2 separate regions of the Homo sapiens genome follow, and region 1 is linked to region 2. Evidence: fine-mapped expression QTL. A gene starts in region 2. The other region holds a variant in brackets. All regions are shown on one strand. Distances are from middle to middle. Region 1 overlaps ARMH3 (armadillo like helical domain containing 3). Region 2 holds the start of KCNIP2-AS1 (KCNIP2 antisense RNA 1).

What was found. PIP is the estimated chance that this variant, and not a neighbour inherited with it, causes the effect.
Region 1: its variant is fine-mapped to the expression of KCNIP2-AS1 in whole blood (INTERVAL, PIP above 0.99).

Annotation. Positions count from the first base shown.
Region 1 is chr10:101,963,341-101,968,710 of GRCh38, reverse strand. The region is part of intron 20 of ARMH3 (armadillo like helical domain containing 3); the gene reads left to right. Among named protein-coding and RNA genes, the nearest start is that of ARMH3, 90 kb to the left of the region's middle. The variant A/C (reference allele first, on the strand shown) is at 2,415.
Region 2 is chr10:101,816,242-101,821,611 of GRCh38, reverse strand. KCNIP2-AS1 (KCNIP2 antisense RNA 1) reads right to left here and starts at 2,544. Exons shown (of 3, transcript NR_045118.1): 1 at 2,364-2,544. OGA (O-GlcNAcase) reads left to right here and starts at 3,168. Exons shown (of 16, transcript NM_012215.5): 1 at 3,168-3,788. The coding sequence starts at 3,590. RefSeq lists enhancers at 3,139-3,258, 3,060-3,635 and silencers at 3,409-3,468, 3,549-3,608.

The DNA.
Region 1 (5,370 bases), 150 kb before region 2:
CAAAAGATAAGAATCTCTAACAGGTTTAGCCTGTTACAGGGAGAAAAAGATTCCCACGTAAAAGCCCCCAAAAGAGCAAGAAATCACTTTGTTCTTTTCTCTGTGCATGCAGTCACTTCCTATCCAGAAAAATGTCAACTCTCATAGGCCCATGAGCATTTTGTCAAGTAAAAGGGACCAGGGAAGGATTAGCTGTGCTTTTGGTTACTCTGCCTATATTAGTTTCAAAGGGACATGTCATGTGGTTTCATAAGGTATCATCCTTCTCTGGATCTCGAGGGAGCAAGACAAGTCTGTTATTGGTCCTACCTCATTTTGGCAAAAAGTAAAGTTATTGGTTCTGTGTCAGATGGCTCCACTGAGACATGGTCTCATTGACTTTTAGATTTCTTAAAGGGTGATTTTGGCTATCACTCCTTTAGGAAACGGTGGGGGGAAAGGAGCAGGTGGTATAGGGCCCTAGAAGAAGGCAGTGGCTCCTGAGCATGCTTGGTTAGAGGCAGCTGCACAGGGACCCTACATTTCCCAAAGTCTAGGATCTGGGAACTTTCATGTGGAAACTCATTTTCATGAAAAAGAAGAGGCTGGGTGCTAATTGTGAGGTTTGCATTGTCTGCAAGAAAATGGGGAATGGAAGATGGTTGAGAACCTTATTTATTTTTTTTTTTTAGCAGATACACATTGACTGCAAGGAAAATGGTAAGGATGGAAGCAGATTTCCGTTTAAAGAAAGGATTTGTTCTATTTCTGACTCATTTAGAGGAATGTGGAGCCTTTAGTCAGTGCAGGCTGTTGACATACTGACTTGTGTGCTGTGTTCACCTGGAGAGGCTGATAGCATACAGCCAGAGCCATTTCATTTTCTTGTTTGATTCTTTGGCCTCTGTGTCAGTGAAGTGCTTAGGCTTGCATCCAGACAGATGCCTGTATTCTGAAAAGCCACCTAGAGTTGTTCCCCGCCCCCTGCTCCCCCCACGACTGAGTCTTGCTCTGTAGCCCAGGCTGGAGTGCCGTGGCGCGATCCCAGCTCACCGTAACCTCTGCCTCCCTGGTTCAAGCAATTCTCCTGCCTCAGCCTCCCGAGTAGCTGGGAATACAGGCGCACACCACCATGCCTGGCTAATTTTTGTATTTTTAGTAGAGACGGGCTTTTACCATGTTGGCCGGGCTGGTCTTGAACTCCTGACCTTGTGATCCACCTACCTTGGCCTCCCAAAGTGTTAGGATTACAGGCTTGAGCCACCGCATCTGGCTGAGTATTTTTAAATTATTCTACTGGCAGGTGTTGGCTTCAGATTCTCTCCTGCACCACTCTGCTGATTGACAGTGAGCCTGCTGATTGCTGGCAATGTCCCTGGGTAATTGGTGATTTTGTCCAGAGATGCTGGAATTGGCTAGAGTTTATAGTGCTTCCAGGGTTTTGGTGGCATGAGCTTGTTACACTAGTGCTATTTTCATCGTGTCCTTTGAGTTTCTTGACTTCTCTCCTAAGCAACTGAGATGGTAATATTATTCTTTTATTAGTCACTGTGAAATTATCCATCTCTCCTAATGAACAGGTTTTGATTTGGGTTCTGTGGTACCTAAACCTAGCTCCATGCCAGGTCACAAAATCAAGTCTGGGTGAGTGTTGTCTTTGCTGTTTGTCTTCATAGCATGTAAAAGCTGCTCAAATAGACAGCTTTCTCTGACCTGATTCTTTGGAGATATTAGTTTGTGCTCTCCTGGAGGCTGTCTCTTTCCTGTTTTTAATCTTATTTAAATGTCATTCACTTGGTTTTATAATTAAGCCTCCCCTCTCCTTTTTTGAGGCAGAGGCCTGAGCTACCACTTAATTGTGTCTTCCTGTGGTTGGCTTGTTCCTCTCTGCACCTGGTTTACCTTAATGTGGGGGACAGGTTTTAGTCCTGGAGAAGTTCTCATATCCATTATTCATTCTACTGCTACATGGCAACACAATTTGCTGCTACCTTTTTTCCCTCCTCCTGAATTCAAAGCAGGATAGAAAAAATTCTGGGAAAGTTCTCATTGTGTATTAATGCTAGGAACAGCTCTGCAAAAAAGGTTCCTTGTGGGGTGTGTGTTGGGGGCACTGTGTAAGATGGCAGGATTCTCAGATGGATCGTATTCAACTCTTCCTATTTGAAAATTAGGGTGGGCTGGGCGCAGGGGCTCACACGTATAATCCCAGCACTTTGGCCGATCACCTGAAGTCAGGAGTTCGAGACCAGCCTGGTGGAGCCCTGTCTCTACTAAAAATACAAAAATTAGCCAGGCGTGGTGGCGGGCGCCTGTAATCCCAGCTACTTGGGAGGCTGAGGCAGAAGAATTGCTTGAACCCGGGAGGCAGAGGTTGCAGTGAGCCAAGATCACACCATTGCACTCCAGCCTGTCTCAAAAAAAAAAAAAAAAAA[A/C]AAAAAAAAAACCCAAACCAAAAATTAGCCAGGTGTGGTGGTGCATGCCTGTAATCCCAGCTACTCAGGAAGCTAAGGCACAAGAATCGCTTGAACCCGGGAGGTGGAGGTTGCAGTGAGCCGGGATTGCACCACTGCACCACTCCAGCCTGGGTGACAGAGTGAGACTCTGTCTAAAAAAAAAAAAAAAAAAAGAAAAGAAAAAGAAAAAAAAATTAGATTGTCTGCTTCTATCTCTAGGAATTCACGTGGGACTTAGGGAACCATCAGAGTGCCTGGTCCTGGCTCAGCTTCCCGAACCTGTACACTCTTCTATATTCTATCTGCATGTGCATACAGAAAAGTCAGAACTCTACACACTGTTGTCATACTCTTTCAGCAGATATGATGCACAGGACTCCCCAAGGAAGGGAACATGGGCTGAAGCTGAGTGTGAGACTGATAGTTGCCTCTAGTACAGAGTCAAAAGAGAGCAGTTGTAGCCAATTTGGAGTTCCTGAAAAACAGCCCAGAAAATAAGTTTTCAAGGGGCCTGGTATGAAAGACTTGCCAATGAAGAAATGAGTGTGTATTGAGCACTCACTTCCCTACAACTTAAACGTATTTAATGTGTAATATAATACCTCAAATATTTTACTGCAGTAATTTCTCAGTTCTTCACTTGGTGCAGAGTTAAGAGTACTTGGAACCTCATTAAGTATAACAGATGAAACAGCAAGGATTAGGAATCAAACCCAGAGTCCCTGAGGATTTTGTAGGATAGTGTTGGTATTTAGTGCATTGTTAGTTTGGATGGTGAACTTTGGTGATTATTTTGAAGATTGCCACAGTGTTGCCTTGAAGGCTGCCCGGGGTTCATTTTGAATTTGCATTCCTGCTCAAGTTCATGGGCTCTCTGTTGATTGAGTATATTTGGCTCCTTTCCTTTTACCTATCAGTGAGGAAGCATCTTTGTGTGTTTGTCCCTGTACTTAGTATGGTGTACTTTGACGTGAATGTCAGCCAGTCAGTTATGCAGAGGTTACAGAAAGTGAGACTGGAGTGTTTGTGAGGCTGTTGGGAGTGTCTGTGGAAAGAAAAACATTGACCTTTTGTTTTTCTTTTTAATTGGGGTAAAATAAACATAAAATTTATCATTGTAACTATGTTTAACCATACAGTTCAGTGGCATTAAGTATATTCACATTGTGCAACCATCACTACCTTCCATTTCCAGTACTTTTTTTTATCTTCCCAAACTGAAACTCAGTACTCATTAAACAAAAACTTTTTTTTTTCTTTTTTTGAGATGGAGTCTCACTCTGTCACCCAGGTGGGAGTGCAGTGGTGCAATCTTGGTTCACTGCAACTTCCGCCTCTGGGTTCAAGTGATTCTCCTGCCTCAGCCTCCCGAGTAGCTGGGACTATAGGTGTGTACCACCATGCCAGGCTAATTTTTTTTTTTTTTTTTTGGTAAAGACGGGGTTTCACCATGTTACAGGCTGGTCTTGAACTCCTGACCTCAGGTAATCCACCTTCCTTGGCCTCCAAAGTGCTGGGATTACAGGTGTGAGCCACCGTGTCTGGCCAGCAATAATTCTTAATTCCCCCTCATGCCAGACCCTGGCAACACTAATTCTGAATTTGATTACTCTGGGTATTTCATTTAAGTGGAATTAAACAGCATTTGTCCTTTTGTAACTGGTTTATTTCACTTAGAATAATATCTTCAAGGTTCATCTATGTTGTCAGAATTTTCTTCCTTTTTAAGGCTGAGTAATATTCTGCCATATGTATATACCATATTTTGTTTATTCGTTCATCTTTTGATGGACATTTGGGTTGCTTCCACCTTTTGGCTGTTGTGAATGATGCTGCTGTAAACATGGGTGTACAAATACTTGTTTGAGTTCCTGCAATCGCTTGTTTTTTTGAGATTGTGTGCGTTTAATTATCTTAGGCCAGTGGAGTGAAGTCCTAAGACATTTAGAGACATGTACTCTGAGCTGGCCAGGAGTGATGGCTCATGCCTGTAATCCTAGCACTTTGGGAAGCCAAGGCGGGCAGATCACTTGAGGTCAGGAGTTTGAGACCAGCCTGGCCAACGTGGCGAAACCCTGTCTTTATTAAAAATGCAAAAATTGCCGGGCGCAGTGGCTTACACCTGCAGTCCCAGCACTTTGGGAGGCCGAAGTGGGCGGATCACGAGGTCAGGAGATCGAGACTATCCTGGCTAACACGGTGAAACCCCATCTCTATTAAAAATACAAAAAATTAGCCAGGCGTGGTGGCGGGCGCCTGTAGTCCCAGCTGCTCGGGAGGCTGAGGCAGGAGAATGGCGTGAACCTGGGAGGCGGAGCTTGCAGTGAGCCGAGATCACACCACTGCAGTCCAGCCTGGGCGACAGAGCAAGACTCCGTCTCAAAAAAAAAAAAAAAAGAAAGAAAAAGAGAACCCCTACTTTAACGAAAGGGAAATGGCATAAAATAAGTAGGTCAGTAGCCTACTACCACCTTATTTTAAGTTGACCTTTTAAAACTACTACCAGGAGACAGCCAAGTGCAGTGGCCCATGCCTGTAATCCCAGCTACTCGGGAGGCTGAGGCAGGAGAATCGCTTGAACCCAAGAGACAGAGGTCGCGGAGAGCCGAGATCGTGCCGTTGCACTCCACCCTGGGCAACAAGAGCAAAACTCCATCTCAAAAACAAAAATAAATAAATAAAAAATAAAAACAAATAAGTAAATAGGCCAGGCACAGTGGCTCATGCCTGTAATGTCAGCACTTTGTAGGGCTGAGGCGGGTGGATCACCTGAGGTCAAGAGTTCGAGACCAGCCTGGCCAACATGGTGAAACCCCGTCTCTACTAAAAATACAAAAATGGCTGGGCACGGTGGCTCACACCTGTAATCCCAGCACTTTGGGAGGCCGAGTCCAAGGCGACCGGATCACGAGGTCAGGAGATGGAGGCCATCCTG
Region 2 (5,370 bases):
TCTCCTGTCAACCTATAAGGAAGAAGCTGAGGCAAAATGAATACAAGTAGAGAGTTTATTATAAGCTTGAGGATTGCAACGAAAGAGCATAGATTCAAGTTGCCCTAAATAGACACTCTGATTAGCAGCAGTTACAAGTGGATTTTTATAGGGAAAGAAGAGGCAGTTCCTGAGTTATTTACCAACAGTTTACATTAAAATAACATAAGCTATTGATTGGCTATACATTGTTAAACTATAGGGTGTGTGTTAGAATGTCCAGTACAACATTATTAGGTTAATTTATAGCTACTTGTGGCAAGAGCAAGCAGTGTCAAGAGATGAATACATAGCTCAAAGGAGGGAGGCATAGGATGTGATTCTGTCATTTTCTTTTCTTTTTTTTTTTTTTTGAGACTGAGTCTCACTCTGTTGCCCTGGCTGGAGGGCAGTGGCACGATCTTGGCTCACTGCAACCTCTGCCTCCCAGGTTCAAGTGATTCTCCTGCCTCAGCCTCCCAAATAGCTGGGATTACAGGCGCGCACCACCATGCCCAGCTATTGTTTGTAGTTTTAGTAGAGACGGAGTTTCAACATGATGGCCAGGCTATTCTTGAACTCCTGACTTTCTGCCCGCCTTGGCCTCTCAAAGTGCTGGGATTACAGGCGTGAGCCACTGAGCCCGGCTGATTCTGTCATTTTAATGCCTCGCTGGGCCTATTTATTTATTTTTAATTTTTAAAGATTTATTTATTTTTTAATTTTTTTTTTTTTAGAGGCAGGGTCTTGTTCTGTGGCTCAGGCTGGAGTGCAGTGGTGAGATCCTAGCACTACAGGTGCACACCACTACGCCTGGCTTTTTTTTTTTTTTTTTTTTTTTGTTTTTTTTTTGAGATGGAGTTTAGCTTTTGTTGCCCAGGTTGGAGTGCAATGGCACGATCTCGGCTCACGCAACCCGGGTTCAAGTGATTCTCCTGCCTCAGCCTCCCGAGTAGCTGGGATTACAGGCATCTGCCACCATGCCCAGCTAATTTTGTATTTTTAGTAGAAACGGGGTTTCTCCATGTTGGTCAGGCTGGTCTCGAACTCCCGACCTCAGGTGATCCATCTGCCTCGGCCTCCCAAAGTGCTGGGATTACAGGTGTGAGCCACCACGCCCGGCCTATTTTTATTTTTTTATAAAGACTGGGTCTGGCAATATTGCCCAGGCTGGTTGCAAACACCAACACTGCGCCCAGCCATCTGGGCCTGATAATTTAAAAGGACTCTCATTCCTCAGATAAAAGTTCTTTTCGGCCAGGTGAGGTGGCACGTGTCTGTAATCCCAGCACTTTGGGAGGCTGAGACTGGAGGATCACCTGAGCCCAAGAGTTTGAGACCAGCTTGGGCAAGATGTTGAGACCCCCGTCTCTACCAAAAATGAACAAATTAAAAGAGTGTGGTGGCGGGCACTCGCCTATAGTCCCAGCTACTCGGGATGGCTAAGGCGGGAAGATCCCTTGAGAGCCCAGGAATTCGATACTTAAGCTATGATTGCACTAGCCTGCGTGGCAAAATGAGACCTCTTCTCTTACAAAAAAAAAAAAAAAAAAAAAATTGTGTTCTCAACCCCAACGGACCACAATATCCAGTAAAGCTGCTATGGCCCCTAACTCTCAGCACAGGAGGTCCCTTAAGAAAATGCTTGTCCGGCCGGGCGCGGTGGCTCACACCTGTAATCCCAGCACTTTGGGAGGCCGAGGCAGGTGGATCACCTGAGGTCAGGAGTTCAAGACTAGCCTAGTCAACGTGGCGAAACCCCGTCTCTATTAAAAACACAAAATTAGCCGGGTGTGGTGGCGGGTGCCTGTAGTCTCAGCTACTCGAGAGGTTGAGGCAGGAGAATAGCCTGAGCCCAGGAGGTGAAGGCTGCAGTGAGCCGAGATTGCGCCACTGCGCTCCTGCGCTCCAGCCTGGGCGACAGAGTGAAACTCTGTCTCAAAAAAAAAAAAAAAGTTTGCTCCTAACCCCCATCTCAACAATCCAGGACTGAAAAGAAGAGGGACCATGAAAGTCCCTGAAACTACAAGTTGGGCTACGGCTAAAGAAGGTAAATATCAGACTGAAGTGTAAGATGGACATTACTAAGTCTTAATCATCATTTCATGTTTATACCTCACAGGTTGAGATAGATTTCTCAAGCATCATAAATGTAAAGTGCATTAGGGTAGGTCTACAAGAGAGCTCTGAGAACATACAGCAAGGAGACCCAAACCCATCTAGGGCTCAGGGAAGGCTTCCCAAGGAAGCGATGCCCATGCCGAGGCCGAAGGGATCTCATGCCCCACTGCACACACCGCGCGCTCCCCATTCCCAAACAAGGCAGGCTTTTCATGCCTCCCTACCTTTGGACTCTGTTGTTCGTTCCACTTTCCTGGAGTGCTGTCTTCCCTCCCCTTCTGCTCAGTCAGGCTAACTTCACATCCTTTATAATCCAGCTGAAAAGTGAAGCCATGCCCACGGCCTCTCCCCAAAGGAGGAGTGAGTATCACCTGTTCTGAGCTCCGAAGTTCTTGGGGACACCTTGTGGGAACTGCGTGTGTGGTGGCTTGTCTCCACCACCGTACTGTGAGCTCATAGTGTTCTAGAGCCCAGCACGAGGCAAGCTCTATAGATGTCTACTGAATGAAGGAATGAACGAATGATTACATTTTAAATGGGATTAGGGGAAAATGATTCAAGGCAGAGGGGTGAGCTGAGCTCCTTGGAATGGTGTCTTTACCGAACCAAGCCTGGGTTAGGCAGATGTAATGAGCCCACCTATTACAAGAATCTCCATAGAAAGTAGGTCAGTTCTTTCCTATCTCTTTAAGAACGAGAGGCCGCGGCTCCGCGCCTGCGCACTGAGAGAATAAACACCTCTCCTTTTCACCTTCCCCCCTTCTCCCTATTGCCCCAACCGGCGGCAGCCTCCTCCCATACTCCCCTCCTTCGGGGCGGGTAATGGTCCGTCCGTCCCAGGGTGCCAGGCTTGTTTCGGAGGGTGGCAAGCAGAAATGGTACATTCCACTGCCTTCATTACCTTCTGCTTTTCGCGTCTCCTGTTCTATTTCCCCCTACCTAAAGAAGCTTAATAGGCTAGCCCCAAAGAAGGCGGGGGAGCCGGGCGGAGGGGACCGGTCTGAGCCGGTCTGCAGCGCAAGCGCAGTGCGGATAAACAGGAAGCGGGCGGTGGAGGCAGCAGCAGAGGGAGAGCTCGGGGCTTGGAGGGGAAACAGCGGAAGACCTAAGATTATCGGGAGGGCAGCAGAGGCAGAGAACGAGGACAGGACCCTTGGCCGTCTTCTTCCAGGGAACGAGAGGTCACAGCCTCGCTCTCCGCTTAGGCTTCTGGCGCCCCAGCTTAAAGCCGAGGCTGCGGCTGACAAAGGGCTCGCGCCGGTGCCGCCGCCCTTCTCATCCGGGCATTCGGGTCCCTGCGGAGAGGGAGGGGGAAGGGCAGAGGGGGAGGGGAAGGAGCCGGAGGGGCGCACACTTGGAGCTGAAGCCCTCTCCAGGGCTCCGGGCCGGTGCCCCAACGGACAGAGGTCGAGGAGGACCCGCAGAGGTGGCAGCGGCCGGGGGCAGGAGGATGGTGCAGAAGGAGAGTCAAGCGACGTTGGAGGAGCGGGAGAGCGAGCTCAGCTCCAACCCTGCCGCCTCTGCGGGGGCATCGCTGGAGCCGCCGGCAGCTCCGGCACCCGGAGAAGACAACCCCGCCGGGGCTGGGGGAGCGGCGGTGGCCGGGGCTGCAGGAGGGGCTCGGCGGTTCCTCTGCGGTGTGGTGGAAGGTGAGCGCCCTCCTTCCCTCCCCGTTTTGGCACTAACACGTTCTGTCCTCGGGAGGAGGGTGGTGGCGGGGATTTTGGAGACTCTAAAAGGCCGGAAAGCCTCTGGGTCTGAAATGTGGCCCTCCTAAAGCGAGGGGAGAGACGAGATGTTGGGCGAATCTCCTTGCACGTCTTAAGACGGCGTCGAATTCCCCCCTGGCCACTCACAAGTCTGACCCCACCCGTCTTGGGCTTGGAGCCAGGCCACCTCCTAAGGAGGCGGTGGTTAAGAGCCTGGTGTTCTGTTAGCCTCTGAGTTCTACTTCTTTGTACCTTGGGATCTTATTCCCTAGGGTTGTCTGGTTCCAGTGAAAAAATATGTGTAGTGCTTCTGTCACCACCCTTTGTGGAAAATCGGCCCACACTGACGTGCTTGTACTTCTGGAGTGAAGAGAAGCACGTTTGGCCTATAGTATTTCAAGTTCCACTTGGCTTAGAATATTTTTGTTGCTTCCCCCCACCCCCGCAAAGATTCATTTGCAACTTAGAAAATTGCCCTCTTTCCCAGCTACTGTACTTTGCTCTCGAGGGATGAAACTTTGGCTTTAATCACAGATTCTCGAAGTATCTGAGATGCGTAATTGGAATTTAGTGACCGCAGAAGCGGCTTTAAAAATGCCCTTCTCGCCTTTTTTCCCATTTACAGTCGAAAAGAACGATGGACTTTTTGGTAGTGAGGGAAAATTACCAGATGCTTGTTTCAGTTTCTGGATGAGAATGGACAGATAGTCCACCTTGCAGCTCTGTAGAGGCACGAATCGGTTACATTATTAGTCTTTCCGCAGTTACAGCATGTATTTGAATTTTCTGAAGTATTTTGGCCGATTCAGAGTTTCCTAGATGTCTGTTTTATATCTCTCTCGTATGTAATGGCGTGGATAAGGGTAAAAAATATATATATTTAAAAAACCAAAAAGGTATGGAAAAAGGATTGCTCTCGACGTTGAGAACATCAGCTTTTCTGTTTTTTTTCACCATATAAATTAGAGTATTCTTTCGAAAAATGGGTGGTGGTTATGGTACAGACCATAACAGGCTACTTTGCTGCTACAGTAAGGCATGAAAGAGTTCAGCGAAGTTAACTGTCTTGCAGAATTTGGGGGATTACAGAATGGAAAACTGCTATATAGTATTCATCAAAAATGATTGCATTGTGTGACTTATATCGTTGTATTTATTGGCTTGAGTGCAGGGAGATTTTAGAAAAAGAATCTGGTTTTTGTTATCAAAGATCTTGGAGTGGGGATGAGAGAGTGCTGGGAAATTTCGGAGCTAGACTGGAATGAGTCTAAGGAAACTTGCCAGTCCATTATACCTTCAGTTATAAAAGGAGAAAACTCATTTGGTTTAAATTCGTTTGTTTAGAATAGCATTAAAAGGCGATTCTTCCTATTTAAAGAACAGAGTTGTCTGCCATTCTCTCGTTTATTCCTCCTCCCTCCCGTGCCCTTGTATATTTTCTTAGTGACTGAGCACCTGAGCCAGCACTGATTTTTTGTGTGTTTTGTTGTTTTTGTTTTGGGAGACGGAGTCTCGCTCTGTC